Homo sapiens: one gene and its partner. The protein of the gene in region 1 interacts with the protein of each later gene in a biochemical or structural test. Each region holds a gene or a part of one and is shown on either strand. Other genes may lie near its edges.

Region 1 (3,654 bases):
AGTGCTGGGGACCACTTATCTATGAAGGCAACAGGCCCAGTATGATAAAGCATGAAAAAAACAGGCCCAGAACTGCTTCACTTCCCTCCCACAGACCTCTCTGATCTTTGTATAATGTTTACATTCTAAACATGGAATGCTTAAGAGAAAAAGGAGAAAGCTTAATAATAGCATATGCTGATAAAGATAACACTTACCTTTCAAAATATCTAAACATATTCTTCCCAACTTGTCTACATTAGGATGATAAATTTTGGTCATGAAACGTACTTTAGGGGCTGCCATTGGGTATTCTTCTGGAAGGAATAGTTCAAGTTTAAAAGTCCCTCCCTCAAAGGGGGAATCCTGAGGGCCAGCAATGACCACATGAAAATAACGGGCGTTGCTCTCATCTGGTTCGGCTTTGATGCCAGGAACTGGTTCTGCCAGCAAACGCTGGGTTTCCTATGACAGAAAAACAAACACATTTGTGAAACAAATGTCATTTTGCTAGACACCAAAAGTAAAATTAGAAAGTTCATCTCTTAGAACTACGCATAATAGAACAGCTCCAATCTCCCAACAGATTTAGCTTATAAAATGCAAAATTCAAAAAAATACCATTTAAATAATTACAACCAGCTGAATGAAACTGCAAGCGAATACTAATGATGTTATCATACATTTTGGCTACAAATGTCTACAAATATGTTAATAAAATTAGCTTAATAAAACTGATTTTTTACTCAAGTAAAATAAAGTAACATTAGGATTACATAAGTAAGGCAACTTGCTCTAAACTCAACCAAAACCAAGCTATTTAAAAAGTAAAATTAGCTTTTTTGGTGGTTTTTTTTGGCTTGTTTGTTTGTTTTTGAGACAAGATCTCACTTTGTCACTCACGCTGGAGTGCAGTGGCAAGATCTTGGCTCACTGCAGCCTCGACCTCCCTGGGCCCAGGTGATCCTCCCAACTCGGCCTCCTGAGTAGCTGGGATTACAGGTGTGCGCCACCACACCTAGCTAATTTTTGTATTTTTAGTAGAGACGGTATCACCCTGTTGGCCAGGCTGGTCTTGAACTCCTGGCCTCAAGTGATTTGCTCGCCTTGGCTTCCCAAAGTGCTGAGATTACAGGTATGGGCCAACACACTCGGCCAAAAATTAGTTTTTAAACCCACTGAAAACCTCCCCTCTGAAAAATGTAACGGACTAAAGAAAGGAGATAAGAAGAGGCCCAGGTACCTGAACAGGACTAAAGAAATATATTTAACAATGCTGATTACTCTAAAATTGACAATTAACTTCAGAGGAACCCTTAATACTCCCAACAATCATACCATTAGTTCTCTTTTTCATCATTCTCCCTCTCCCCTAAATAATTGTATTATTATTATTTCTCTTCTCTCTTCAAACCTCCAGCATCTCCATCCCCATCCTCACTTGTGGCTGATGTCCTGCTTCCTATTTCATGACAAGTTAGATACTTCCATCAGTTCCCACTGTAGCATTTGGACATTTCCCTGCATCTGCACCCATACACTCTGGTTTTTCTCCTGTATAGATGAAATGTCACGTACTCTTGGCTAGGGCCAATCGGTCTTGAGCACTAGATCTTACTGATCTCTGAAATGTTTGTTCTTCGGTACCATAAAGAAATAGCACTTGAACATAAATTTAATTTATTTAGTAAAGCCATTTTTACTTCCTGCAGAAAGGGTACACTCGCCAGGAGTTTTGCCACAAGAGTATACTGAACAAAGGAGACAGGGTCATTTATAACCTGACGCGTCCACCCTACTGCTGTGTCCGGTTTCCACTGGCTGGAACGGGATCTCACATTCTGTATTTGTCCTGACTGGCTAGCAACTTAGAACTTTTTAAAAGAGGTAAAGGTAGAGGGGAACAAAGGAAGGAGGAAGTAACTTGTGGAATGCTGAGAAAGGTAAAAACACTTTTAAATAAGGAAGAGGAACAGGCTATGACCTAATGCTTGCTTGGACCAGTATAAGCATGCCAGGGCAAATATTTAGGCTAAATTGTGGGAGCTAAGAACATAAAGTATATTGATTTCTTTATTATGGCTAGCAAATATTTAAGAATGTTTGCACAGGTCTTCGAATAAATTTTGCTTCTAAGAGAAGTTACTATTTATTCCTAATTAGATGGGGAGGAAAGTCTTTGAAGAGGAACCTCTACTTTGCTTGTCTCCAATTTCTCTCCTCCTCTTCTGTCTTGAACATACCCTCCAATCAAGCTGTAGTTATCGCTAACTTGTTTGTTAAGGTCACCAATGATTTCCACAAGGTTAAATCAAATGTCCAGTGCTTAATCTTTATCTTACCTAAATGCGACATCTTATCCAGCTGGTCTCCTTCCTCTTTGCAAAGCTTTATCTAACTTCCTATAAACATTCTCATGGCTCTCTTCCTCCTTGTCTGGCAGCAGCTTCCTTTAGTTTCCTTGTTGGTTTCTTCTATCTCCCAACATCGCAACACTGAAATGCACTGGGGCTCTATTCTAGGGCTTCCTCTCTGTTTATACATTTCCACAGTGATCTCATGTAATGCAATGAATTTAAATACTAAACACACTCTATAAGCTGAAGCCTCCCCTAATTCATATCTAGCCCAGACCTCTCCCCTCATCGTGCCTCTTGCCTCTATAACTACCTGCTTGATATACACTCTTGAATGTCTAATAAGCATCCCAAACTTAACATGACCTCCCTATCCCCAACCTTTGCTCCTCCCATAAAGTCTTCCCCACATCAGTTACTGGCAAACCCATCTTTCCAAATGATCCACCTTTTCCTTCATATGCCACACACATCTAGCCTGATTGGCAAATTGGTTTTTTTTATACTTCAAATTCTACTCATGATTGGACTGTTTCTCACCATTCCACTGCTACACCTCTGATCCAAGCAACCATCAGCTCTGACCTGGCATACTACAACAGCCTCCTAACCTGTTCTTCCTGCTTCTGACCTCACTACCTCCCTCGCAGGTCTATTATCCACAGACCCTTTAAAAGTCATAGTCCTGAGCCGGGTGCGGTGGCTCACGCCTGTAATCCCAGCACTTTGGGAGGCCGAGGCGGGTGGATCACCTCAGGTCAGGAGTTCGAGACCAGCCTGATCAACATGGAGAAATCCCATCTCTACTAAAAATACAAAATCAGCCGGGCATGGTGGCACGTGCCTGTAATCCCAGCTACTCGGGAGGCTGAGGCAGGAGAATCATTTGAAGCCAGGAGGCGGAGGTTGCAGTGAGCTGAGATCGTGCCATTGCACTCCAGCCTGGGTGACAGGGCGAGACTCCATCTCAAAAAAAGTCTGGGCATGGTGGCTCACACCTGTAATCCCAGCATTTTGGGAGGCCGAGGCGGGTGGATCGGCTCAGGTCAGGAGTTCGAGACCAGCCTGATCAACATGGAGAAATCCCACCTCTACTAAAAATATAAAATTAGCTAGGCATGGTGGCGCATGCCTGTAATCCCAGCTACTTGGGAGGCTGAGGCAGGAGAATCGCTTGAACCCCGGAGGTGGAGGTTGCGGTGAGCCCCGATCATGCCATTGCTCTCCAGCCTAGGCAAAAGAGCGAAGCTCCGTCTCAAAAAAAAAAAAAAAAAAAAAAAGTCATAGTCCTTGTAATGGGCCCCCAAAAGACGCTCTA
Region 2 (3,654 bases), on another chromosome or scaffold:
GTGGCTGGCTGATGTAGCAGTTGTGACCTGCAATTAGCCTACAATGGGGGCAAAATCATGTAACAAAAAGCCTATTTTGTATTAAAGCATCAAATATCTCATGTAGTTTATTGAATACTGTATTGAAAGTGAAAAACAGATTGGTTGTATAGGCACTCAAAGAGATCTCAGTTCTCTTGCAAGCTCCTTAAAGATGACTGGATGAGGCTTTACACCATTGTGTGTTTGCCACCGTGTTTGTACACAGGAAGGGCTCAATAAACAAATCATTGGTGACTCTTTGACAACACAGAAAACGATTTTGACTTACAGTGATTTAAAGGAATTTTAGACCCTTTTAGCTTGAAGTCTTAAAGGAAGTTAAGAAGATAGAAACTTATTTTTAAGAGCTTCCCCTACTTGCATTAATAATGATTAAATGTTGAATCAAATTAGAATGACCAGGCTGCAGTACGTATACCAATGTTTGGGAGGTGAATGTTCTCAATGAGGGTCATGATTCTAACAAAATTAGTTGTTACTCAAAGCCTGTTTTTCAACTTCCATTTGCCTCCTACTTTGCCCACAAAAAAAAAAAAAAAAAAAAAAAAAAAAGAAAGCAAAAGAAAGCAAAAGAAAAAAAACCTCTACTTGGTGACATACAACAAGCAGCTTTAGGACTTTACAGCCTACCAGACCACCCCACAATCTAACGGAGCAGGCATTGATGCCTGGATTTGTGATGACTGGGTGTAGTTGCCCACCGCTGACTGCCCCACCTGCGTTTATAATTAAAGGCTTCAATACCTTTGTGATATACATCTGTTTTACCTCCCTTTTTTTGATTTTGGAATACTCATTCACATGATAGAAACTCTTCTTTGATACTCAAAATGCTTGATCATTATGAGAGTGTTATTATGAAAGAGGGAAATATGTTCAGCTGCTTGAAGAAAATGACCAGAAATACATTAATATTAAAATAACGCTCTCGGCTGGGCGTGGTGGCTCACGCCTGTAATTCCAGCACTTTGGGAGGCTGAGGCGGGTGGATTACTTGAGGTCAGGAGTTTGAGACCAGCCTGGCCAACATGGTGAAATCCCATCTCTACTAAAAATACAAAAATTATCCAAGCATGATGGTGTGCACCTGTAATCCCAGCTACTTGGGAGGCTGAGGCAGGAGAATTGCCTGAACCTGGGAGGCAGAAGTTGCAGTGAGTTGAGATCGCACCACTGCACTCCAGCCTGGGCAAAAGACCGAGGCTCTGTCTCAAACAAACAAACAAAACACTCTCAGTTTGAAAGGTAGTGAATAGGGCTGAGATAAGTGTCTCAGGAACCAAGTATTTGTTGTGATATTCTTTTGCAGTTGTGTTGTTCTGGGGTAGGTTTGCAAATTGCTTCCTCGAAGATTAATAATATGAGATTAGAAGTGGTTGGTGAGCACATGGACAAATTTGTGTACTTTGGAGAATTTACCCCTTTTGTTGCATGAGACATAAGATTACTGCCATTTTAAGTGAGTAATAGTTAATTCAACCATGCAGGTAAAGAGGTGTCCTTAACTGGGATAAATAGTCCATCCACTCCACTCCTTTACATTGGTACTTCAGAAACTGAAGGTACAGATCCATCCATTCACCTATGGTGGTGTGTAAAATAGCATTTGAAACACTGAGCATCAGGTATTTAAACCACTTATTAGGCAAACAATTGCATTCATTAAATGTATTTTGAATGGCCAGGCATGGTGACTCACGCCTGTAATCCCAGCACTTTGGGAGGCTGAGGCAGGCAGATCACCTGAAGTCAGGAGTTCAAGACCAGCCTGGCCAACATGGAGAAACCCCGTCTCTACTAAAAGATACAAATTAGGCAGGCATGGTGGTGGGCACCTGTAATCCTAGCTACTCTGGAGGCTGAGGCAGGAAGAATTGCTTGAACCTGAGAGGTGGAGGTTGCAGTGAGCTGAGATTGTGCCACTGCACTCCAGCCTGGGCGACAGAATGAGACTGTCTCAAACAAACAAACAAACAAAAGAATGTTGAATGCCTATGTTTTACCAGGCATAATTCTAAAAAAATCCCTGCCTTCTAGCTTCCTGTAGGTATTTAACTCATAATTAATTTGGTTTTCTGCTTTTTTTTTTTTTTGTAATGGCAAAGCTAAAAGGGTAGAGAATAAAAGAAATGTATCTGATATTCTCTCAATTCTTGATACCTTAGCATATATGCCTGCCTTACATGGCTCTAATTCAGGTAAGTCATTATGAACTGGAATTTTAAAAAGTAAGATGGGTTTGGGTTTAAATTTCACGTCTGCCACGTGACCTGAGTGCACAAGGTCTGACTGAGTTTGTTCTTCAGCTGCAAAATGGGGGAGAACCGACCTCATTGAGTTAGTGTAAGAACAGGAGAGACTTACATATAAAGTGCTTAGTGTGTTGCCCTCCACAATGTAAGACTAAATAAATGGCAGCTGTTGCTAACGTCCTTATATCCAGCATCTACCATCCACCAATCATTGGGCTCAGTTCTGGAAATATCGGGATGAATAGGCATGGTCTAACCTGAAGAAGCCCTTAAGCTAGCCAAGGAGGTGATGGCATCCAAGTAACTACAGCCTTCAGCGTTTACATGGGAGTTTCTTTTACCTGTCATTATTGTCAGAGTCTTTGGTTTGAAAGTCTGTAAAGCTTTCAGTGGCTCTGAGTTTAAAATGATAGGCCTTCTCAGGAGGAAGTGGGGAAAAAGCTGGAAGCAACTGGAGGAGAGGAGTCTGAGAAAGGGTTCTGAGCTAGCCCCCAGGCAACCTGAGTCTTCCTTAAAGGAGATGAGTCGCCTTTCTCCTGTGGCCTCACTCTTCCCAAGTGAAATGAAGGACATCCTCTTTCTCAGGGTCTGCTTTCTTGGGAGTAGAGTGACCCCCAGACTTGCCCATGACTAAGAGCATACCTGGGTCATGGAACTTTCCGTTTTAAAACAGTCCCAGAAAAATTGGGATGAGCTGGTCACCCTCCAGTCTTGTTCTGTGATTGTTGTTTGACATCCTGAAGCAGGCTTTGTAGAGATCTAACATTGTTAGTAGAGATACAACCATCCTACAAGAGAGGAGCAAGCGGGGCAGAATAAAATGGGAAAAAACATTGTAGCCTTGTCAACCCCTTTATTTAGGAATCTGCTTTTTGGAATGGGATATTTATTATTATTAAAAAGAAGAGAACTGTTTAATAAAGGCAAGGAATCTAGGCTATACAATATAAATATAAAGTTAATGAAACCTTTTAGAAATTCTTCTTAAAAAGGGGTAGCCGCTTGGGGCCCGGTACACAGTAGACACTCAGTAAAGACTTATTGAAATGGTGGCATCAATTTATTCTTCAGAAATATTTTTGAAAGCTGCATAGAGAAGTGCAAGAGGCCTCTGAGACATGCATTCCAGGACAGGTTGAGGGGCTGAACACTGTGGGCTTTGAACCAGTCTGCGCCTCACTCTTCTGGGCCCTTCCATCACTCATTTGAAAATGCATGCATCTAGATATGCTCTGGGTTTCCTGTGCTGGTATCTGAGTGTGTTTATGTATGAGCTGATGCTCTTCATGACTGTGTTTTTTTTCTTTCTGGTGGAACCGCATGATGCTAGCAGACAAGTTGCTTTGTCTTTTGTTTGAAG

Evidence for each region. The genes of interacting proteins can lie anywhere in the genome.
Region 2: the proteins of UBE2N (region 1) and RNF152 form a complex in vitro, tested with the Homo sapiens proteins (one study listed by BioGRID).

The regions. Positions count from the first base shown.
Region 1 is NC_000012.12:93,410,856-93,414,509, forward strand, and holds part of UBE2N (ubiquitin-conjugating enzyme E2 N), read right to left. Parts: intron 445-3,654; coding exon 198-444; intron 20-197; coding exon 1-19. UniProt on the Homo sapiens protein: The UBE2V1-UBE2N and UBE2V2-UBE2N heterodimers catalyze the synthesis of non-canonical 'Lys-63'-linked polyubiquitin chains. This type of polyubiquitination does not lead to protein degradation by the proteasome.
Region 2 is NC_000018.10:61,882,926-61,886,579, reverse strand, and holds part of RNF152 (E3 ubiquitin-protein ligase RNF152), read left to right. Parts: intron 1-3,654. UniProt on the Homo sapiens protein: E3 ubiquitin-protein ligase that acts as a negative regulator of mTORC1 signaling by mediating ubiquitination of RagA/RRAGA and RHEB.